3 linked regions of the Homo sapiens genome follow. The protein of the gene in region 2 interacts with the protein of the main gene of each other region in a pairwise test. Each region holds a gene or a part of one and is shown on either strand. Other genes may lie near its edges.

Evidence for each region.
Region 1: the proteins of LRSAM1 (region 2) and ZMAT4 interact in binary tests that used the Homo sapiens proteins (3 or more experiments, as listed by UniProt).
Region 3: the proteins of LRSAM1 (region 2) and ATXN7 interact in a two-hybrid assay, tested with the Homo sapiens proteins (one study listed by BioGRID and IntAct).

The regions. Positions count from the first base shown.
Region 1 is NC_000008.11:40,690,966-40,699,602, forward strand, and holds part of ZMAT4 (zinc finger matrin-type protein 4), read right to left. Parts: intron 6,437-8,637; coding exon 6,280-6,436; intron 1-6,279.
Region 2 is NC_000009.12:127,489,510-127,496,509, reverse strand, and holds part of LRSAM1 (E3 ubiquitin-protein ligase LRSAM1), read right to left. Parts: coding exon 6,992-7,000; intron 5,296-6,991; coding exon 5,215-5,295; intron 3,709-5,214; coding exon 3,613-3,708; intron 1,191-3,612; coding exon 1,092-1,190; intron 547-1,091; coding exon 415-546; intron 1-414.
Region 3 is NC_000003.12:63,978,867-63,987,503, reverse strand, and holds part of ATXN7 (ataxin-7), read right to left. Parts: intron 7,590-8,637; coding exon 7,337-7,589; intron 5,319-7,336; coding exon 5,059-5,318; intron 4,566-5,058; coding exon 4,483-4,565; intron 1-4,482. UniProt on the Homo sapiens protein: Acts as a component of the SAGA (aka STAGA) transcription coactivator-HAT complex. Mediates the interaction of SAGA complex with the CRX and is involved in CRX-dependent gene activation.

The sequences.
Region 1 (8,637 bases), on a different chromosome or scaffold from region 2:
ATTTAAAGTGTATAAATATCTGTCTTTGTTGCTACCAATCCACTTAGTGAGAGCCTTGGATTTTGAAATGTTCTATTCAGTAGACCAGCAAATACCAGTAAATCACTTTGCTCCTAGGAGAAATTCAGGGTTAGGTTCCTAGGAACTTGTGGTTACAAGGTTTTGATCAATCAATATACAACCTTGATGTATGTGTGTTTCTGCTTAAATGTGTCTGATTTAATATAAATGTTTGATTCATTAACTTTAAACTCACCACCAATGGCACTGTAACTCATGTCTGAGCAAAGCTTATTTTCTCAGTAAGGTTCATCACAGCCTTATTGTACTTAGGAATATTAGATAGCACTTCAGCACTGCTCTTGGGGGCCATTTTAAATGGCAAAGTCACCAACAAAAGACACAAAATGTGCAAAACACGTGACACTAAATAGACTGCAAAAAAAAAAAAAAAGAGAGAGAGACTTGTTTACAGAATGAGAGCTGAAACAAGAAGGCAGAATGTCACCGTGTTCAACCTCAGCTGGGAATGTGCACTTGGCATGACTCACATTTTTCACAATTCCACACATGTCTGGGAATAACCCCAAAAGTGCCAGGAGAATTAATTTGGAGTTACAAATAAATCACAGTGGATTCATAAATACAGAATCCTCAAACAATGAGGATCAGTTGTGTGTATGCTTACACTTGTATGTATTTACATACAATAATATATCCATTCCACACTGAATTGTGTGGCAGACACTATAGTAAGTATTTTACTTATATCTTCTGCCTTACTATAGTAATTCTGTAATGTGTTTCCGTCACTTTACCTTTAACAAATTGAGGGCTGAACAGTTAAAACCACCTGTGAATGTTCCCATGGATATAAGCAGAATTTAAAACTGGGTCTGACTTCACAGCCTCTGTTTGTGGCCTCTGGTATTTGGTATATCACCTATTTTACAAAGAAAGGAGTTTTGTAAGATCAAGCAAGTGGACAGGGATGATACATTCCTGTTAAATTGGAAAACCACTGTTTTTTACCATCATACTTGACTAAAATTTAAATAACCAAGGTAACTAAATTTGAAAATAAAACTATAGACACTTAACTGCCTATTATTATTCTAATGTATGCTTCCAATTTTTACACATCGAACAAGTATTAATTAAATACCTACTATGTGCCCAGAGGTACAGTCATGAACAGAGGCAGTAATAACTGTGGTCCCTGCAGAGCACACCTCAGAATGGTTCTCTATCCATCCAGCCTTGTTACTGAAGACACACATAACCCTAGGGCCACTTCAAACTCTGAAGGGTCAAAAATGAAAGAAAGGTTATTGCTAAATTTGATGTCATTACCTGTCAAACTAATGATGTCTGGGAATTATATGAAAGATTGCACTCATATCCATTTTTACTGTGAATGATAGATGTGTTCATAAAAGCTTATAACTGAAACAATAACTTTAAGGGATAATGTAGCCACCAGGATAGATTAGACTCTCCTGTAATACCATACAACCGCAAAGTATCACAATAAAGGCTTATTTCTTGTTCGTGCAAAGTCTAACGCAGTTGAATGGCTCTCTTCCATCTTGTAGCCAGGTCTTAACACACAATCAATTGCAAGTCTGGGGCAGATAAAAAGCAAATGGGTGTCTGATAAGCAAAGTCTCTGCTACAGACACAGATGAATGTTCTTATTAATGCTGGATAGAACCTAACCATTCCAATTATGCATAATCTTAAAAATCACTTTGATGAATGGTGGAAAATGGAGAATAACTATAGTTTAAGGATTTTCTTCCATACATCAGATTTCCTCTCATTCATATTTTCTCCAAAAGTAAGTTTCTAAAGAGAAGAGTTAAATGATGTTTTCTTCAGGATTTTGAATGAGATCTTGCTGATATGGATTTATCATAAAAAAAAAGAGGTTGGGGGCAGGCACAGAATCAGGGCCTATGATCTTTGCCAGCTGCCAGCAGTTAACTGGAGTTTGCTCATATACCGGGTTAGTGTCCCCTCAAATTTATGTCCCCCTAGAAGCTCAGAATGTCAATGTTTTTGGAAATAGGTTTTTTGCAACTGTAACTAGTTAAGCTAAAATGAGATCATATTGGATTAAAGTGTGCCCTAAACCCAATGACTGGGGTCTTTTTTCTTGTTTTCCCTAAGACAGGGTTTCACTCTGTCACCCAGGCTGGAGTGCAGTGGTGCAACCTCAGCTCACTGCAGCATCAACCTCCCAGGCTAAATCAATCCTCCCACCTCAGCCTCCCAAGGAGCTTGGACTATAGGCATGTGCCATCATGCCTGGCTAATTTTTATTTTTTTGTAGGGAAAGGGTCTCACTACATTGCCCAGGCTGGTATCAAATTCCTGGGCTCAAGCAATCCTCCAGCCTCAGCCTCCCAGAGTGTTGGAATTACAGGTATGAGCCTGCTCTCAGTCACATCCTTTTCATCAATCTCTATCCCAGGCACCTCCCCAGCTCCTGACTGGTGCACAGCCTGGGAAGACTGCTTCCATTTTATACAGACACTCACCCTAGCACCCGTTGTGAGTTTCTGTATAAAAAACCCTTTGCCTCCTTGATGCATGTTCCTCAAGATCATCCAGTCTCTAGATCAAGAGTCAAACTTTGTATGTAAAGAACCACATAGCAAATATTTTAGGCTTTGTGACCTGGATCATCCCTGTTATAACAACTCACTTCTGCCATTGCAGCATAAAAGCAGCCACAGACAATATGTAAATGAATGAGTGTTATTCCAGCGGCTCTGCCAAGCATTTCAGAAATTCTAGTAAACATGCACCCATCTGGAGAAGGCGACTCAAGTTGCAACTCATTCTGCAGGAGACCCAGAAGATGCTTGATCAAAGGGCAGCTGGAGGGGGTGGAAAGGTAGTGATTCACAGATCCCAACTGCTCACCCTCATCAGACGAAGTAGCTGGCAGAAGCAATGAGTTGTGGTTCAATTATTCCAACACAGAAATCACCCCAGTTCAAGAGCCTGTTATTCACGGGGGTGGGGGCAGCATACCTGAGCAAAATTGTTTCTCTTACATCTTGATTCAGTTGACTGGATTTTCTGTGTTCCTTTTTTTTTCCTTTTGTTTTTATTATAGAAGCAATTTCAAGCCAGCTTGGTTAATTAGGCAGAGCGGTTCCTAGAGGAGCACAAGGCAGCCACCACGTGGAAGGTGAAGCCCTGGAGAAGCTGCTGCTGGGTGTGGCTGCAGGCAGTAAGGGAGGATGGCCATCCGGACTCCATTCAGGGAGCTGTACTTGATAATTCAGGAGGCCATAGTGTGGGTTTTCTTTTCCAGTGCCTCCTGGTCTTTCTCCTGTACTTGCAGTAACTTGAGAACAAGCCTCCACCTTATACTCTAAGGCTAGAATTCAGGTTCCTGTTTTGTTTTCTACGCGTGGTCTCCAGCCCAGCATGCTTGTATTAAATGGTGGTGTCCTGCCATGGTCTTCTCAGCCTATCCTTTCCTAGAACCCAGGACTGCAGCAGGCCTTGCTACCATCTGCCAGGCTTTCCCAACACCGGCACACTGCTGGTTCATTTGCATGCTCCCTGGGCCCAGAGCCTCCGATGCTGGTGCCATCCTCCTATCAGGCCTTCAACCCTTAACCTGGGACACCCCCACAATGCCTACTTCTGCTGTTGGGACTCAAAACAATATCTCAAAATGAAGACCTGAGCAGCAGCCTCAGAAGTGAAGTTTTTCTCTGACATTCTCCTACCCTCCTGTCTCCCAGTCCCATTCTCCCCCAAGGATAGCCTGGAAACCTGCTTCTCCAAGGCAGATCTTAGAAACCAGAACCGCCTTTTCCCCAAAGCCAGCCATAAAACCTAAAAACTATTGATCTAACTTCCCCTCACTCCCCTCACCTTTCTGTGTAAAAACTGACCATAAAGAAATTATCTGTTTGACCTTGCTGGAGAGTAGGACATGAGACCCCCTTTCCAGAGAGGGTCCTGCCCCACACCCAGAAGGAAGGAGTGCTGCTCAGAGAGGCCAAGAAGAATCTAGACAGACAGGCTTTGCTAGGTGTCCCCACTCTGTCCAACAGCATTAGATCGTTCCCTTTTTGTGCAATCATATTTCTACAAGGCTGCCCTTACTTTGTTGAAGTAACCATAAAAATGGCCAATTTCTACTGCATTTGGGTCTTCATTCTGAAGGCGCTCGTGTACACACATTGCATACATTTGCATGTCTTTTCTCCTATTGACCAAACTGCCTCATGTCTGACTACTTGCTCCCTCTAGTAGGAGGCCTTGCTTTCTCTGCTCCCTGCCAACAGCTGGGTTGACACCAACCCAAGCCAGGAGCCAGTTTAGCTTCCTAGGCCCTCTGATCTGTCTGGTGCTGCCACTTTCCAAGATCCTTTCTGCTCAAAGCAGTGACAGAGGGGAATGGATGGGAGGGCAAGCTGCAGAAGGGGGTATAAGCTGGGTGTGAAGGGGGAGCTGGCGCAAGGCAGGCCCAACCTGAGCCATAGCTTTCGGTGCACCACACCCTATTCGTTCCCTTCTTGCCTATCCAGCAACCTGGTTTCTGCAACAGGGAGGGCTGAGCTAGTCCCATGAACAGCCAAGACTAAGCCATTAAGTAAAGGCTGTACTTCGCTTTTTCCTTTTCCTTTGGAATGTATTGATGATGGCTAACAAATTACACTCGAGTTCTATTTCCCAGATCTGAGGGTGTTTGAATTCAGGAAAACAATTGGATGCTTGGTTGTCTTGAAGCTGTATTTAAATTCACAAAGAACTGGTTTTGCCATGTGGCAATTTTTTTTTTTTTTTTTTTTTTTTTTTTTTTTTTTGCAGAAAGAATAACTCTCCCATTTGCTAATTGATGTGATAAGCAAACACACACCTTCTCCTCTTCCATCATTACCTCCAAAATTTAATTTAACAGTAATATTCTGCTTCAGCAGAGAGAACAAATGGACTGGTTATTAATTCATGGAAAACAGGTAAAAATTTTCCAGTGACTGTTTTTTTGAGGTGTCTATTTTAAGAGATTTGATGGGGAGTAGGTTACAAGGTGAATATGCAACATTTAAGGGAGCAAGAATCAGGAGTTTCAATTGACTGGCTGCTTGTCAAAGGCTGAAACACAACCTGTGCCCCCAAACATACTGAGCTTGTCTCCAGATTTCATGTGTTTTGCAACCTCATCCTATGCCTGAATGTCACAGCCACCTTTACAAAAACAATGTTGTTTAGTTAAACTAAATAGAAAAATACAGTAAAATGATTCCTTGTGATTCTCTAGGTAAAAGAATACATTTTTTCTTAAGAAAAACAGTGGTAAGGATAAAAGCCAAGCATTGTTTTAGGCTCTCTCCAGTTTGCAAAATGCCATTTACAAAATAATTACACCTACAGTTTATGCATGATTCATTAGACAGCAGATAAAATGTACTGCTAAATTTTAATCGCATGGAAAGAGTAGGCACCATGAAATACGCCCCCAACTTCTCTGGATTCTAACCTGTTTGGTCACATTTCTGCCACAACATAAATCTTGTCCAAATAGTTTATCTTGATTAAATTATAACAGTGTTTTAGTTTCATGATGTGATAGACCTCTGAAGAATTTATTTTAGTTAAGCAATTAGAAGGTCAAATCATCGGTTATCAATATTTAAGGTTTTACTTGTGAAAGTTAATAGGCTTGAATCACAGGATCTCCTGCAAGATGAATCACAGGATCCCCTGCAAAGATGATGAGAATGTCATCTCAGAAAAAAAAATAAATAAATCAGTTCTTGGCACACTAAAGTACTTTTAAAGATTATAGTTTTCCTTTCTTTTCCTCCCACTCTCCCCTGCCAAGGTAAAAAAAAGGATGATGTCCTGCATTATAGACATTGGTAGGGGACCTCTCTATTACACATGACACAGCATGCATGATCCACACTAATTGCAGACGGAATCTAGAAAACAGAATAGATATCACATCTTATATAATACACAGTAGGAATGATAGACAATGCACACAGCTCTTCAGCAGATGCAAGCTGCTGCATTACTTCATCGAAAGGAACTAGGGTGATAGAATGAGCACCTGAAATGGTATTTAGGGGTCTTAGGACAGCCAGGTCTGCTGAGGTCAGCCACTCATCCCTTTAGGCTTTGAATGACGTCTACCATTAGGCTCTGGTTCTGGCAACTGCGTCTGAAGGAGGAGCATGATCTGCAAGACAGGCCAGCACTTGGTTTTCAGGGTCTCCCCACGATCACTGTTCCTGCACGTACCTGTGGTCTTTAATGGGGTCTTCTCTCCTAGCAAGAGTTTTAACCTCTTGGCGTGGATTTTGCCTTGATAATGGGAATCGGCCACCACCGCTGAAGTGAATGACATGTTGCAGAGTGTGCAGCACTTGTTCTTATCCACCATGTCGGCATCACTTCCCTGCGCAGGGAGAAAGAAAGGCCACGTGTGAGAGAAACCCATTCCATTCTTTTACAAATGAGACTTACCCAGACGAACTAGTGTATTGAAATATCTAGTTTTTGTTCTGCAAGCTGTCTCTCTCTCTTTTTGCCTTGCTTTCTACTCTCTTCTTTTTTAAAAAATTTTTTTATTATACTTTAAGTTCTGGGATACATGTGCAGAAAGTGCAGGTTTGTTACATAGGTATACATGTGCCATGGTGGTTTGCTGCACCCACCAACCTGTCATCTACATTAGGTATTTCTCCTAATGCTATCCCTCCCCTAGCCCCCCCACCCCCTGACCGGCCCCGGTGCAATCTCTTTTTCTTCATGATAATCATCATCAAAACTTACTCAGTGACTGACTTTGACATACAGTTAGTAGCTATTAATGCCAGATACTGGGATTTCAGGACAAATTTGTAGAGATGAGTTATCCAAATAAAAACGGGGCCCACAATTAAGAGAGGGCACATTGAGCCTGGCATGGTGAAGGAAAGCAGTCTCTAATTGGACCCATTATACTCATTAAAGTCTGTAAAATATCAGAGTTCAGATAGCCTGAATTATTTAGCAGAAATTATCATTTGTTATTCCGCTCTGCTTTTGACCAATTTTAGCCTCACCAGGATACATGGCCATGATGTTCAAGATTTTTAGAGATTTCTTTAAGGAATTGAGTGTTTTTCATAATTAACTCGATTCTGTATCATAAAGCTATGATGACTGTGCTGGCTGGATTTTCTGGGAGAGTTTGTGTAATTTTCCTTTTTTTCAGGAAAGGTGATTCATTAAATGCTGCACAAAATGCTTAAATCCAGCTGGATTTTTATTCCTTTGTAATACTTAATGAAAATGAATCATAATTCAGAAAAAAATAAAACCTTGGTCAGACCATGTGACCTGCTATTGTGCTCGCAGGTCATCAATTACCTATACTTATGAAGGGAAGGAGTAATCCATTGCTTCCCCTCCTGCTTAGTTAGAAATGGAGGGCAGAACAGACTTTTAAATAAGAAGTTAATCTATTCCTTAATGGTGCAGCAATAGCCGAACATCTCTTTGTTAAAGAGCAAGCTGGAATGAGTATATGGCCCCACAATGGCCGCTTCTCTTATTCCTAGTGAGCCCAGACAGTACAATTTAAAATTGGATGGTGAGGAGGATGAGGGTGGCAACTGGTTGGAGGAAGGGAATTACATATTTTATCTGCATAGTAATAAGATGTCCAGACTGCTAGAGAGAGTGTTGCCTTGCAAATTATGTGGTAGTTAGGAAATGAATTCCTTCCTCCTTAAGACATTAGTCTGTAATATCTCTGATAATTAGCATTTCATCCTTGGAAGGAAGGGGTTGTGTGTGTGTCCCAGGAGCAGGAGGCTTGCCTGAAGTTCAGGGAGAGACTTCAAACATTGGGGCTGGGATGGAGGTTGTCAGTGAGTGGAAGGGACCACTGGAGAGAGGAGGGGCTTTCCCAATAGGTCCTCTCCTGCTAGGAAATCTAGTAGCCCTGAGGCTGTGCTCATTGGCAATACTCTCGCTGAGGGTTTAAAGCCAAAGTGCTTTCAGTTTTCTCCATAGAGAAAAAAACAAAATAGTACGAATACTTTTAGTTCTGTGTGGAATACTATGGAAATGAAATGGACCTGGAGGTAAGGGGCAGGGTTGGCTTCCTGGCTCCCCTGAGCTACCTACCTCCTCAGTCAAGCCTAGGAGACAGGATGGAAGCCAGGGAGATGGCATATACCAGGATCACCAGGAAGAGGCAAATCAGGGAGTTCCTGAAGGGTTCCAGCCCATTAAATGAGGAGTAGATTATGCAAGAGGAATGAGAGACCAAACTTGGTGCCTCTTTACTACATGCTGGAGGATATATATTTGTCTCACTTTTTAAAATTTGTGTACATTTGAGGGATACAAGTGCAGTTTTGTGACACAGATATATTGCAGAACGGTGAAGTCTGGGCTATTAGCGTAACAAAGAACTAAAAATAGAACTATCATGTGATCCAGAAATCCCACTAATGGGTATCTACCCAAAGGAAAAAAAAATCATTGTGTTAAAAAGATAACTTCACTCTTATGTTTATTGCAGCACTATTCACAATAGCAAATATATTGAATCAACATAAGTGTCCATCAATAGACGATTGGATAAAGAAAATGTAAATGCACACA
Region 2 (7,000 bases):
TGTTTTGAAGAATAAGTGGATTAATGTGCTGTAAAGAGCTCAGCTTGTGCCCAGAAAGGAACAGGGGCTCAGGCAGTGCTGTGGCCACGACAGTTTGTGACACCATGAGGCAGGGCAGAGGCTGGATCAGATAAGCCCCAAGGGCCTGTCTTGTCCCTCCAGTCTGAAGATCCAGTCTGATCAGGTCAGCAGGACCCACCTCCCCAGGATTTCCCAGTGAGACAGTGTGCAGGGCACACACAGGCGGCTGGGGCAGATGGGCAGGTGTTCTGGCCATCTGGAAGCAAGGTGGCCCTGGGCCATTAGGTAAGGACAGGCCTCAACGAGGACTACACAAGGAGCAGATCAACCCCCGGCTGGTCAGGACAGCGGCCTTGCGTGCCCCTCCCCTCCATGCAGACGGCTGCTGCCCACCTTGGCCAGGTCCCCTGGGCTCATTTGGCTCAGCAGGTCCAGTGAGAGGCGGTGGTGCGCAAAGATGGGCAGGTAGTGCTCAGCCGACAGCTCCTCCAGGAGGGCCACCAGCTGGCGCTCCATCCCCTCTTCCTGCAAGACAGAAACGTGTACCATGAGCAGGAAGGAAGAAAAGAACCCACTGTTTACAACAGGAAATGAAGGGTTTGAATATTTATAACATAATACATAGAATGTACTCGGGATTTTTCCTACAAAAACTCATAGGTAGGCACACAGAGATAGATAGATAGATAGGCCCAGGGGTTCACTGCCGCTCTGTCTGCAAACCTGAAAATAGTAAGCAACTTGAACATCCACCAAGAGGGGGCTGTTTCAACTGCCTCTCTGTCCCCGCAGGTGCTGGACAGACAGTGGCTCCCGGCACAGGCTTTGCTCTACTGTGGGCTCAGTGGTCTCTGCCCTGCACAGCAGTGACCAGTGCCTTGTCGTCCCCCTCACCAGAATGAACACTCCCTTACTCTCGCTTCTGTCTCCACTGGGGCTTGGCACAGGATCTGGCATGCTAGAGTCACCAGAAAAGTAACAAGAGGCAGAGCATGGTGGAGGCACCACAGGCGCCTCTGGGAGGAGGTCCCCAGGGCTCCCTGGCCGGGACAGGCACCAGCAGTCCTTACTTGCAGCTTCAAGGACAAGGGCTTCTGGTTCAAAAGCCGTTGATACTGAATCAGCCAGTAATTTTCCTGCCTGGTTTCACTTTTGGCTTCTAACTCCGTCTGCCAGGAATGAAGCAGGCAATGTTAGTCACAAAATGGTAATAAAACCTGTAATAACAATGATGGTTGCCAGGCGCGGTGGCTCATGCCTGTAATCCCAGCACTTTGGGGGGCCAAGGTGGGCAGATCACCTGAGGTCGGGAGTTCAAGACCAGCCTGACCAACATGGAGAAACCCCCCACCTCTACTAAAAATACAAAACTAGCCAGGCATGGCGGCACATGCCTGTAATCCCAGCTACTCGAGAGGCTGAGGCAGGAGAATCTCTTGAGCCCGGGAGGCAGAGGTTGCAGTGAGCTGAGATCGCGCCACTGCACTCCAGCCTGGGCAACAAGAGCGAAACTCCGTCTCAAAAAAACAAAACAAAACAAAACCAAAATGATGGTTATGAACCATGCTCCTCTGAGCGGGTGGACAGCACTTGGTACTTTTATTTTATTTTTGAGATGGACTCTTGCTCTGTCACCCAGGCTGGAGTGCCCGAGTAGCTGGGACTACAGGTGTGTGCCACCATGCCCGGCTAATTTTTATATTTTTAGTACAGATGGGGTTTTCACCACGTTGGCCAGGCTGGTCTCAAACTCCTGACCTCAAGTGATCTGCCCACCTCGGCCTCCCAAAGTGCTGGGATTACAGGCGTGAGCCACTGCACCCAGCCTGAATGTGATTCTTTTATTCTGCCATTCGATAACTCTTCGTTGAGTACTGTTCTAGGTGCTGGGAATACAGCAGTGAACAAACAATGCTGATAACAGCCACGGTGACAACAGGCGTAGCTGACATGTTCACAGTGCCATGTGCCAGACCATGCTGTGCACCTAACGATGCCATCATTAATTCTCACAACTCCGGGAAGGAGATTCTACCTCCCAGGTGAGGGAGCTGAGGTTCAGGGTGATGAGTAACCTGCCCAGGGTGGGGCCAGGAATTGGACCCAGGCCTGTCTTGCTCCAGAGCCCGTGCTCAGAACAACGGAGCTGTTCAGTGAGGGCTGGCATGACATGGGGAGTGGGATCAACACAGGCGTTTCTCAATCCCTGCTGGGCCTGACTGCCCTTTGCGGGCCCCTCCTGGACCTGGCCACGCCCACTGCTCCCTTCCGTCGTTGGCCCTCCCGGGCTGCAGCCCCTCTCTTCCAGCGCCCAGGAGCCGGATGGGCTGTGTTCTGCTGGGGCGGTGCTTCCTCCTTTGGTGGTGACCCCCAAGGCCTACAAGGGCAGGGGCACCAGCCATAGTACCTGGCTGCTAAGGCACAGCGCCAAGGCACCATCTGCAAAGTAACCTGATGCGTAGGAGATGGCAGTAGGGCACCGTGAGGAACAGGCAGCTTCCTCTGATGGGCACAGGCACCACTTGGCTTGTTCAGGGCTCCAGAAGCAGCTGGTCTCTCTCTTCTAAACCTGCACAGGACCCGGCCTAGGACGCAGCTCAGAGGGCATCTGGTGCATTCACGGGGACACAGGAACGACTCGGTCTTTTCCACCCCAGATGGTGAGCCTGGCCTCTGTCCTCATTGCTTGGGTGCCCTCTGGGTCTAGAGGAGACACTCTCAAGGGGGCCTCTGCCACGCTGAAAATGTGCCAGTGTCAAACCCATCAGGGGACAGGGACAGCTGGGCCACTCCTGCCAAAAGCTTATCAAACGGCCTGCCCTGGACATAGTGAGTCCTGTCTGGAGTGAATACTCATGGCTGTTCCCGAATACTCGACTACAAAGGCATTCGGAGAGCATTGCCTAGAAAAGTTTAAAAACCAGAAGTAATCCACATACTCAACAATAGGGGCCACGGACAGCCTTGAGAAAGGACGTCAAGGAATAGTTTAATGACTTGAAAAGAATGTGCGGAAACAGGCTGCTCGAAAAGGGTATGCAGCATGCCACGTTTAAAAGGCGCATACACGAACAGCTATAAAGGTGCATCACAATGTTTGGAAAATATGCATCAAAACCGCAGGAGAGGCTAGGCGCGGTGGCTCATGCCTGTAAAACCAGCACTTTCGGAGGCCAAGGCAGACAGATCGTTTGAGCCCGGGAGTTGGAGACCAGCCTGGGCAACATAGCGAAACCCCATCTCTACAAAAAATAAAAAAATTTGCCAGGCATGGTGGCACATGCCTGTAGTCCCAGCTACTCGGGAAGCTGAGGTGGGAGGATCGCTTGAGCCCAGGAAGTCAAGGCTGCAGTGAGCTGAGATTGCGCCACTGCACTCCAGCCTGGGCGACAGAGTGAGACCCTGTCTCAAACAAACAAATAAAAAATGGCAGGAGATAACGCTTGGAAATGCAATTATTTTCCTTTGTACTTTCCAGTTTTTCTTTGATGAATAACTCTTACTTGAATAACAGGTGTTTCTAAAAATGGCAAGTCTGTTAAAGAAAAGCAAATGCCTGTGTGATGCTGAGCACAGAAGCCAAACACATACCAGGATTTCCCGGAGCTCTTCCTCTCGCTGCTGCTTCTCTTTGAGCAGCTGCTGGAGCAGGGAGCTGAGGGCCCAGCGCTGCTCCGAGATCATCTCCTGCGAACAAGACCACACCCCGCACCACCGTGAGCTGGCGGCAGCGCAGGAGTCCCGCAGTGGCAGGATGGAGAAGGGCCTGGCCTCCCGCTCACTCGGTTCTCTGCCCAATGCCTCCAGGCTGCGTTGGGGGACAAAGCTAAGAGGCCCTTCTGCCCCCTTACCCTAAGCCCGCATCTCTCTTCCTTGTGGGGTTAAGTCAGGCATGGGATCCTGGTGACTGATGACAATGGGATGGTAAGAAACATCAAACAAAAGAAATGACAAGCCACAGGTGCCTGCCTTTGGTCTCCCAGACAACAGAGCACATGGGCAGAAGCAAATGGCGGGGAGCAGTGTGGGGCCCCACACAAATGGAGGTGCGTGCAAACCAGAGCCTGGGGTCCCTGCTTCACTCCTGCGCCTGCTCTTGGAAACCCCATGGGGGCCCCAACAGCCAGAGCCCTGCCACACTTGTGGGCAGGGACTAGGGCACCCGCCAGGCATGATGACCGCAGCTTCTCTGAGAGCAGTCCCAGTCCCCTCATCTCTGGAGATCATTTCAAGGCTCACAAAGGGCTTTCCCTTGCTAGCTCAGCCTTCTCCGATGGCCTGATGGCACAGGCTGGGCCTGGAGGACCGCTGCCATCTTATGGAGTAGGGGAAGAAGGCCTGGAGGGGCAGAGGCCTGTCTAAGGGCACACAGCACACCTGCGGTGCACCTGAGACCAGGGATCCAGATCCCAGACCCTTCACTGCACTGAGGAGTCCATGGGATGGCTTGAGACTTCTCCACTGAGAACAGACACAGGGACAGTGACAGACCGAAGGCTCTGCTCAAACTCCTGGCACAGGCACATGTCCTCACACACCATCCCATCCAGCCCTCCGTCTGCAGCTGGAGAGGCTGAGGTTCAGAGAGGGGAAAGGGCTGCCTCTCCTCCCCCACCTGCCAAAGTTGCACAGCAGGGCTGTGCTGGGCCACACCCGGCTCCCAGGCATCCAGTCCAGGACGCCAGCTGCCAGTCCCTGCTGCCCTCTCATCTGTGTGCGCAGGACTCCCGGGCTGGAGCCCCAGAGATGCTGCCTGCAGGGAGTTACACAGATGCGGCTGGGCCCTCTCCTCCAGACAACCCGGGACACCCAAAAGCTCCAGCCCTGGAGGATGTGTGCCTGGGGGCCTAAAGCACGGCCTACAGAGAGAGACAGGAGCTCAGCGGCGGGCCCGCACCCAGCACAGGAGACACAGTGATGGAGATGAGCAGGGGAGCCTTGGCAATGAAACCCTCCTTCCTCTGACCCTCCTGCCTCGCAACAGGCTGACCACCTCTAACCTTGGCCTGCGCTGGGCCTTCTGGGGCTGGGGGGTGTCCTCTGGTGTCACAGCCACAGAGGAGCTCTGCCCTCTGTCTGCTGGGGAAGCCCTTGACTCCCAGGGGCTGGTGAGCAGCTGCCAGAGGCTGGGAGGGAGCACCAGGTGGGGGTCTCACCACGTGAAGGAGGGCAGGGGCAGGGAGCCCTACATACCTGGAGTGACTCTGTGTCCAGGGACTTCCTCTTTAACTCCAGCTGTGTCAGCTGCAATAACTCAGTTTCTATTAACTTAATCTAAACAGAAGACGAGACAGGGTTTTTTTTTACTCACATTAACCACAGTTCAGTTTTGTGCTGCTACTCTCTGGTGACCAAGTGGGTCTAAGAAGCCTTTCTGGGGAGGCTGGGGAGGCTCTGGAATGAGGGGAACCTGCGGGCCTGGGAACCTCGTCAAGGGGCTTGAACAAGAATTCGTTCCTTCATGGCCTCGCGTTCCTGGGGCATGGACGTGCTTGTTGTGGCCAAAATTGTTTACCAAGAGGCCAGCACAGGATCTCTCCTAGAGTGGGATCAGGATAAAGGCTTGTGCAATGGAGAGGGGGCTTTCCTTGGGGATTCAGGCCAGAGTAAAGCACAGACAGAGCTATCACCCAGTCTCCTGCTGGTCAAGTTCTCTTGTCCCTCGCATCGCTGTTGCAGGGGAGAGCAGAGGGTAGTGGAAGTGACTGAGTAACAGTGGTAGTAGTAGCTGGTATGTCTTGAGCACCTACTATGTGCTAGGCCTGTGCTGCACACTTGATGTATCATATTTCATCAATTCTCTGGCTGCTAGGAGGTATTATTGCCTCCATTTTATAGACAAGAAAACTGAGGCTCAGAGAGGTTCTCACTTGCTCAAGGACACAGAGCAGGTAAGGGAGAGATCCCTTTCTCTGGGATGCCTCAGCTCAGGGTTTAAGGGCAATAGCTGACCTGGTCAAAACCATCTGCAGTGAGAATGTGGGGGGCCCTCACAGGCTCTCCAGGGTGTGTCTAGGGGATTTTAGCCCTGGGCAGGGGTGGGGGTCAGACCCCATAGCCAGTACTTCTCTATCCTGTGCCCATGACCCTGTGACCCTCATCCCTAAGTCCCTATGACACCACCAACCCCTGGTCAGAGGAATGAGCTTCATGTCCGGCAATGTGGAATTGAAATTAAAGAGGGAAATTAAAAAGGTAAATTGGTCCAAAAAAAGAAAGAAAGAAAGAAAGAAAGAAAGAAAAATAGAGAAAGAAAAAAACCATGCAAAAATGCAAAATTCAGTGTGCTGAACATGATGCAGGAGTACTCCCATAGCCTGACGCTCACTTCAGCCCCAGCCCCAGCCCCACTCCACAGGCGGTGACCACCAAGCCGTGTAGGTGGGCTTGCCCAAGGCTTGAAGGTCAGCAGCCGGCCTGCGGGGGGTGGGGGGTATCTTGTCACATGAGGGAGGGTCTAAGAGGAGGACCGCCTCCTCCTGGGCCGAGGTCACTTTTCAGCAGGCGTCAGGACCACCGTGGCTCACAGCTCCCCCTGCCCTCTTCTGGGGGAAATACTATATGCCCCTGAGACGCCTCTGTCTGTCTGAGCTGTAGGAGCGCTGGGGCCTGCGCCGGCTGCTTTTCCCAGTGGGGAAGTCCTGCCTGGAGCAGGGACAGCAGAGGCAGCTGGAGCAGTCAAAGCCACACATCAGCACCAGCCTCCCTGGCCCAGGCGTGGTGGAGACCCGCCTCGCTGGCAAGACCCTCGCCAGACCCCGGAATAGGAGGTCTCTAGACACCCTCCCAGCAGCCCCGACACAAGGCTGGGAGCAAAGGGAGGTTCTGAGGGCAAGGCCTCGACCTCTTGTTGGGCTAGCAAGCCAAGGAGCTGGGGTTCAAACCTCAACTGCTGCGACCTGCCGCCCTGGAGGGCCACTCTGCAAGTCTCTGAGAGAGCAGGTCCAGGGACCCCAGCCCCAGCGCTCACCTGGCTCCT
Region 3 (8,637 bases), on a different chromosome or scaffold from region 2:
AGACAGACTGCCACAGCCAAGGAGCACTGGACAGAAGATGAGGCTGAGAAGAAATGCTATGAACAGGAAGGGAGACAAAGTAATCCCTATAGATAGACACTGGCTATGGAAATTAAGGAAATGGGATGGACAACACCCCTGGGTCTTCAGACAATGTCTAATTTCAGAATTAAGAAATGGATACACAGAGGAAAAAGAAAAGTCAAATTATGGCAGTGTTTGTCTTAAGGCAACCAATACACACACCTGTGGTTGAAGCAAATCGTATAAGAAAATGTGTCTGTAGTCCAAACGCATTTCATAGTTACTGGCATTAAAACAAAACAAAACAAATAAGCCTAATACTATTGCTAACAGAAGATAAAGTTGAATGTACAAGTGTGAACTGGTCAGAGTTGGGCAAATCTTATTGGCAGTTGAGTCCAATCACTCAAGTTAAACCTGACCATTCCATACTGCTGAGATCTCAGTCTGTAAAAATGCAAGGAGATGCTAATCCTGAGGAGTGGATGAGTTTACATGAGCTACAGTGGCCCCTAATCACATATCCATAAACATAAATGAATTCACCCACGTTTCCTTCTTTTATATTACAAAATATTGTAAATGTGTGTGTGCATGCCCCTACACATAATACAAATGTATTGGCATAGTTGGTACAACTTTAGGGACTTAAAAAGGGAATTATGCTTCTAACTACCATTTTCGGTTGAATAACACAACCCACCTCCTTACGAGACACACTGCAAACTATGTCTACCTAAATAATCTAACCTGGCACAGACAAATGTGTTTAGCTTTTTACATTTTTACTTGATTTTCTTTAATATGGAAAATATCCCTAAGAAAGTAACCTAAAGACCAGGAACTTTGTTTTGTTTGTGTTGTACCAGCATCTAGAAGAGTACCTGACGCTCAAATGCTTCAAACAAAAAGTTTATAAAAATAATGGCCCTCCAACGTGTGTTGAAAGAACGAATGAACATATAATATTACTGGTCCACCTGCCTGTCTCTCCAAGCAGATGTATAAACCTCTCCTCAGCTTGAATGTTCCCGGTGCCTAGCACAGTACAGCCAAATGAAGAAAGCAGGCAGATACATTTTCCCAGCTCAGTTTGAAGCCTAAGTAGGGTTTCCACTGAGCTGTGAAGAACATTCCAAACAGAAATCCGATAGGGGTTGCCCAAGGCTCACAGGATAAAGACTGACTGCATAACTAGGCTCCGGAACCCTGCACACTCTAAGACCCTTGCTTACTGCTCCCTGCTCCTTTGGTCCCGCGTACCTCTTCTTCCCTCTTTCTGTTCAGCCACCTGGCTGGCTTTAAGGTTCTAAGGAATTTGCTCTGCCCCTGTCACAGAGCCTTCACACATATTGTTTCCTCCACCTCTCCTACCTCTCCCATCCCTCTCAAGCCCAGATAAATCATCACATTGATTTCAGCCCAATGTTCCTATGGCAAGAAAGCCTTCCCTGGAAAAACTTCATTTTTGCAGGCTTTCATAATGTAGTCCTCTCATCTTTTTATAACTCATCAGTGGTAATTTTACAGTTATTTTGGTGATTAATACTCTCCATCTCTTTCATTAGACTGTAAGCACCACAAGCATAGGGAACACGTGGTTATTGTGCTAAACCCTTTATTCCCTGCGACCTAGAAAGAGTGAGGCCTGTGCTCACAGATGTACGTAATAAAAAGTTCTACAATGAGTGAATGGACAAAGGCTACAGGAGTCACAAATCTCTCCGCGTGGAAGGCACAGAGGACTTTCGACGGGATATTAGACAGATGAAGAAGTGAGGAGGGGCAGTGAGGATGGGAGACAGACAACAGAGAATGAGTAATGGGAATGAACAGCAGCAAATCCCCTGACGGTGAAGAGAACAGATAACGTTCTAAGTCTAAGACAGAAGAGACCTGGCAGCAACTTGGGAAACACTCAGGGTAGGGACATGCAGGCATGTTTAGCCCTACCAAGCTTAATAGATTCAGACCAACGTGAAGGCAAGGAAAAGGAAAAGAACTGACAAAACAATGAAAAAAAGTCAAGTCATCCTGTAAAAGGGCAGGCCTGGTGGATGCTGCATTTTCTGCCAGTTCTATGCTGATCTCATGACAAGCTGGGTCTCAAGACTTATTAATGCAATGACAGGCTTAGCCCAATGCCACGGAGAGTAATGACACCCTTAAAGAAGGACGACAAGGGGAGCATATATCATTTGAAAAGGAAGATGTGAGAAAAATGCAGACCCATTCAAAGTCACTCCACCTAGCAATAAAGGCACAGGAAGAATGCCAGTCAAGCTCCTTGAAGATTTTGAGTTGAAAAAAAACTTTTGGCAACCTCACTTCTGGGTAGTTATCCAAAATAACTGAAATCAGAATCTCAAAGAGCTATTAGAACTCCTATGTTCACTGAAGTATTATTTATAATAGACAAGATGTAGAAACAATATAAATGTCTGTCAACAGGTGACTGGATGAAGACAACATAGTATATACATACACTGGAATACTATTCAGCCCTTAAAAAGAAGGAAATTCTGCAATATGCTACAACAAGTATGAGGTAAGCTTGAAGACATTATACTAAGATAAATAACCCAGTCACATAATGACTAAACACCGCATGATTCCACTTATATGAGATCTATAATCAAACTCACAGAATCAACAACTAGAGTGGTGGCTGCCAGCGGCTGAAGGGAGAGCGAAATAAGGAGTTACTAATCAATGAGCATAAAGTTTCAGTTATAGCAAGATGAACAAGTTCTAGACATCTGCTGTATAATATTCTTTCACAGTCAACAATACTGTCTTGCACACTTAAAGGTGTGGTTCCCTGCCACGCTTTGTAAATGACTGAAAAAGAACATCTTGGGTTTGAAAAAAGCAAACCTCATTGCCCACAGGTACTGTATTACTGAGAAATCCATGTTACTGAGAGTCAGGTAGGCAGGAAGAGCGCAGAAGGAGAATGGCAAGTTGTGATCATGATGTGGACAGGGCTGAGGCATGCTTTCACACATTCTCTTAGGGACAGCTGAAACTGACATAATTCTACAGAACTCAGGTGGCTATCTTCATACACCACCACCACTACACCACTGTGTGTCCAATTAGTACCCTATACAAAAAAAAAGCAGTTTGTTTTATGAGAGTTTTTAACCTAGAAATCCAAGGATGGGCTTGGGGTGGGGGTGTCCATTAATCCAAGATAGAAAAATTCAGAATGTGTATGTGTATGCACTATTTTATTCTCGGAAGATGGACCGTGGTTTTTTTTTTTTAAAAATGAGATATTTAAAGGTACTCTTGACCAACCCTTTTCCCCAAAAAGGTTCTGAACCACTGTTGTAAGACAAAATCTATATACTAAAATTAAATTAGAAGCTTAAAGTAAGAACCACTTAAAAATTTCCCACTCCAGAAGACTGTAACATGCCTCCACTGGCTGGGGCATGGGACAGGGCCTGAAGTCCTTTATTCAAATACACTTTAATAAAATTTAAAGTAAAACACTAACAATTTTATTAATTTTTAGAAGAAAATGCTAACTTTTATCATTTTTACTTCCTCCCTCTAAGGTTTTAAAATTACATACTTCAAAGCAGTGACTCTGAATGCTTCTTGAACCTATCTGGGGGGTAGCTGGGGACACCCTCCAGAGAAATGCACATCAACATACAAGCTCATTTATGTAGAGGTGTTCACTGATGACCTGAAGCCACCCCACATCAATAACCCACACTTTTCAGCAAATATACCTTATTAGCATACTGGCATTTTAAAAGAAGGAAGACCCCAGAGCAAAAAGGAAGACCATTACATTTTCTTAGCTTGTATATAAATTATTAATATATTTTATCTAGTTTTTTTTTTCTCTTAAAAGAGATGGGTCTCGTAATGTTCTCCAGGCTGGACTCAAACTCCTAGGCTCAAGCAATCCTTCTGCCTCAGCCTCCCCACTAGCTGGGACTTACAGGCATGCCTGGCTTGCAGTATTTTTTTTTTAAACTAGAAAACAGGGATATTTCAAAATCACAGATTTTTTAAAAAGTGGTTCTTTAAAATTTAAGACCATGGGTGACACATTTTTTAAATGTTCATACACACGCAAGGGAAATTTCTGCACTTGCTTTAAGCCAGTATAATTTAAAGCACAGTCAAGGGTAGCCTATATGGAAATATTAAAAGTTTTTAAAAATAACAGACTGGGAGAGAACACTATTCCTGTGGATACAACACTGCTCATTAGAAACAAAACCTCTGTCAAGATTATAATTTATAACAACGCACTTCACATTTTGTCAATCTGAGGCTTTCTTCAACAGAACCAAGTTATTCCTTCACCTACACAATTCACAACAATCCACAGAGCATCTTCTCTGGGTTAGAGAGACTGTGGGAGTAGTGTGGTACATCCCAGTCACCCATGTTTATCAGGATGGTCGACTTGACTTTCAGGAGTCCACCTACCTTGCATGTCAAAGACCGGGTGCAGGGCTTCTTGGTGTCGAGATCAATAACCCCACAGTGGATGTCAGGATCAAACTCTCTTTCTGTCAAAAGAACACAGGCATTACATGTGGCCTGACAAACTCTCCTCCATGTATTTTTTAAGCAAGAAAATAGAAGAAATCAACAGTTAGATAAATTATAGCTGGAATAAAAGCCACATTATCAATAAAATAAAAAATATACAACGTGTGAGTGCTGCAACAAAGCAGCAACATCACTAAGACAGGGGGTGACTACTGCCATCAGATGGTAGAAAAGATATTGTTTAAGTCTGTATTACTTCCTTCAGAAATACACCACTAGAAAGCTACTTTTACATGACACACACACACACACACACACACACACACACACACTCATGCTCTTTAAAACCCAAGAGTGAAAAGAACAAACATATTAACTAAGGAACTTCCTCCTAAAGCTGAAGTTGACCAGTTTTAAAAATAGGAATTCTAGATTGCAGTTGATTTGCTCCCCACGAATGCCCATTTAATATATAGAGAAGCATTATGAAGAAAGAAAATTTGAAGTTACCTGATAATCTCTTATTTAAAAATTTCCTATTATTGGAATTGTCTTCAGGTTTCTTTTCCAGAGTGGGCGGTGCAGGAAGCCCTTTGCCATTCAGAATCTGTCCAGGTGAAGGCAAGGTTGGCTTTGGTATTGAGGGGCAGTTAAGGCCAGGCTTGACTAAGGAACTCACAGTAGCAGGACAGGTTGGCCCCACCGCAGATTTCAGTAGTGTGCCATCCATTTTCGGATGAATCTTTTCCACTTTCACAGAGGGTGTCATGCTGTCACAGGAGGAAGTGAGAAAACCAGTGCCTGAGTGCCTCAGCAGCCCCCAGGTGAATGGTGAGCCAGAGGGATGAGGATAGAGCCTGGGCCTACCCAAGCGCTGCACAGGGCCAGCCTCTTGGAAGGCTCCTTATGAGTTTTGTTAGTAAGGTTCATACTGATTAAGTCTATAAGCCCTTCTGGTGAGGCAAAACCCTCAGTGGACCATCAAATTTGCCTGGTCTTTCATCATTTCAAAAAATTTTACACATGAGGCAATGGGAAACTCAGACCTGATACCCAATGCAATGCAATTTCTATAAGAAGCAAAACATGAGAAGGTCTAAAAGAAACAAAGACTATTTGCAGAACCCTTGGAGAATATCTTTTGAGGACTGCCATTTGTACGAAAGGATTCATCAAAACAAAGTAAACTTCTGAGTGAGCAAATATTTCCAATAAATGTCACTAAAGACTTATGAGAACTCAAACATGCTAAATAACATATCTCCAAGAAGAGGTTCTTTGCTTCTGTCAATAAGGGAGACTAGTGTTTAATAAATATATGTTGTGTCACTAAAGTGGTAATTCTCCAGTCCTTGAAAAATGTTTCTATGACAGGAGCTTAGGGAATACCTGTGCCATTAACAAAGATATGAATCTTGGAATCTTACTGACACTATCATTTTGCTTGGTAAAACTGAAAATACTGGTAGGAAGCTAACAACTGGCCTGGTTCCTATCTAAAGGCCTAGCTCTAAGTAAAGAAGATTTGAATCAATGAGGTTGTATAAACTTTGTTCAGTGGAGTCAGTGCTCTAACAGCTGTTAAGCTGGCCAGTGACTTACACACTACACTGGCACCGTTTGTGGCTTTCAGACTGCTCCCGGAACAAAAACCAAGCTTGCTGTACTGTACTTCTGACAGAAGAACAGGGGCTGGGGGCTTAGCAACCAGGACAAACAGCCCCAAACAACTGTACCTGGAATAGCCTGACAGCAGTAGAGAGACTGCAAGATGTCACATCCTCTCCCAGCTGGCAAGGTCCTTATGCAGCAGCAGGTGCTGGACCCTACCCTGAGATTAACCAGGTTACCGGATCTTGGACCTACGATGTGTGCTATACCCTCCAAAAGCAGGCTGGCCCAAGAAAAGCCATCCGTCACCAGGCTGAGGGATGCCATGACAAGGCGAAGCATGTTCCTATTGGAGTGCGTGGCTGCTCCCTCACGTGACCTCAAGAAACCTGTCAATCTACTGAGTGACCATGGAAACTTGCCAAAGCCATGCCTGGCAGGTGTGAACTTCCTTCAGTCTTCCCTCATCACTGCTGTGATGTGAACCTAAGGCTGAAGGGAGGAAGCACTGCTTCCCTATTTGCTCCGTAGACCCCCAAAAATTCTACAGCAGCATCTGGGAATCTCTGCATCTTTTTATCATTACTATTATCCACAGCAGCAGTAGCAGGAGTGCCAGTATCCATTTGTTAACCGTCCCCTATGGCCAGACACTATGCCAGGTGCTAGACATATATTAACTAAAATATTCTCAATAACCCAGCATAGTGGCTGTTATTCTTAGACAGAAACAGTGCCTTGCCCAAACCCCTACAGCTAAGAAGTGACAGAAATGGGACACAAATCCAGGCCTATGTGACTTGAGGCCTTTTTGGACAAAACTCCCCCACCTCACGAAGCTTCCTTCTCCTCATCTGGAAAACGAGGATAGTAACAGTACCTATTCCATAGGGTTGTTGTGATAAGTGACATAGTACACACATAGAGTTAGGTTTCAGTAGCTAGCACACAAGAATGGATCAATAAATGTTAGTAACCTTATTATCACTGCTATTACTACTCTGAAAAGTTTCCTATGACATGACAGGGAAACATCAAGAAACAATACAACATACATTTGAATTCTTCCCCAAGTAGACTCTCTTTTATATTACTCACAGGCACTCTCACATGCCACTAGTGTACACAGTTTCATTTCCAGCAGGTAAGCTTTAAAAACCCTCTTGGCCATACTCACATTCTACCATGGGGAACTCTACTTTGCTGAATGGGATGCATTGGCCTGGTGTTCCCCCTGAGCTGCAGTTTCTCTTTGGGTGATTTCAACAACTTGGAACTTGATGAGGATGCGCTAAGAACACCTCCACTGGAAGAACGGTTGCTTCCACTTGCACTGCCTCCTTTGCTTTTGGACAGAGAAGGGAAGAAGGAAAATACTGAAGTGGGAGGAACGGCCAAAGGCGGCTTGCTGGATGAGCTATGTCTTCTTTCTGAAAACGAAAGCAAAGAAAAAAAGACATCATGTTTTAGGCGAATCTCAAATGTAATTCTGGAAGAATTCCCTGAAATCAATATATTCAGGTTAAAACACGTGTCGTTAAGTGAAGGTATGTTAAACTCAGCAGACTTCAGAAATGGCTCATCTAGGCCCCACAGACTTACTTAGCATTCTAGGAACGGGTCCTTCTCTTTCTGAAGTATCTCAGCATAAAGAGTTTTATCACATACACCCATCAGGAAATTAGACAACCATCGTAAACATGAGAATATTGCCTTTTGGGTTTTGCGTGCTAAAAATGAACCTCATTGGCTCCAACTTGCATTAAGAGAGAGGAAAATTATTCATTCATCTGCAGAGCTCTGCTAAATGACACTGCAAGCAATTCTTTCTTCCTTTCTAACACCGCACCTCTCTGATTTTCAAAATAGCAAAATCTTAAGAAACAAGTTGTACCTTCTTTTTTTTCCCTGTCACTACCCACCAGCAGATGACACCAAATAAGAATGTTTCTAGGGTTATCTTATCGTTCCCTAAGAATCTGTGCTGAAATTTTCCAGTGAATCATTTCACTTCCCACCCCCCCTTTTTTAATAATCTCACTTGACTACAGATGGCATAGCTCCGGTTCACACCGCTAAGATGCCAAAGGCGCAAGACAAAAATACCACAAATAGCTACGCCTGTTTTTTAAACCAGGAAGTAATTCATGGTTAAGTACAGACTACAAAGGTTTAGCTGAAAATAAATCTATCCACTGGAGAATCAGGTTTTCTTAGAGTAAGGTAATCCATACTAATATAAATCAAGAGCTGTTGAAGAATGTTACCATCAGAAACAAGTAAATCATTTGGTAACTTTATCCGCTTGAGTACCTTAGTGGCTGCCTTTAATTAATTAATTTAAAATTACACATTTGCTTAACTCTAAGTTTTAAAATGCATGTGATCCAACACTGCCTTATCACAATACAGGAGCTATATAAGTATTTAAAACATTAAGCACATGATGATCAATGACCACAAGTAAGACTTCAATGG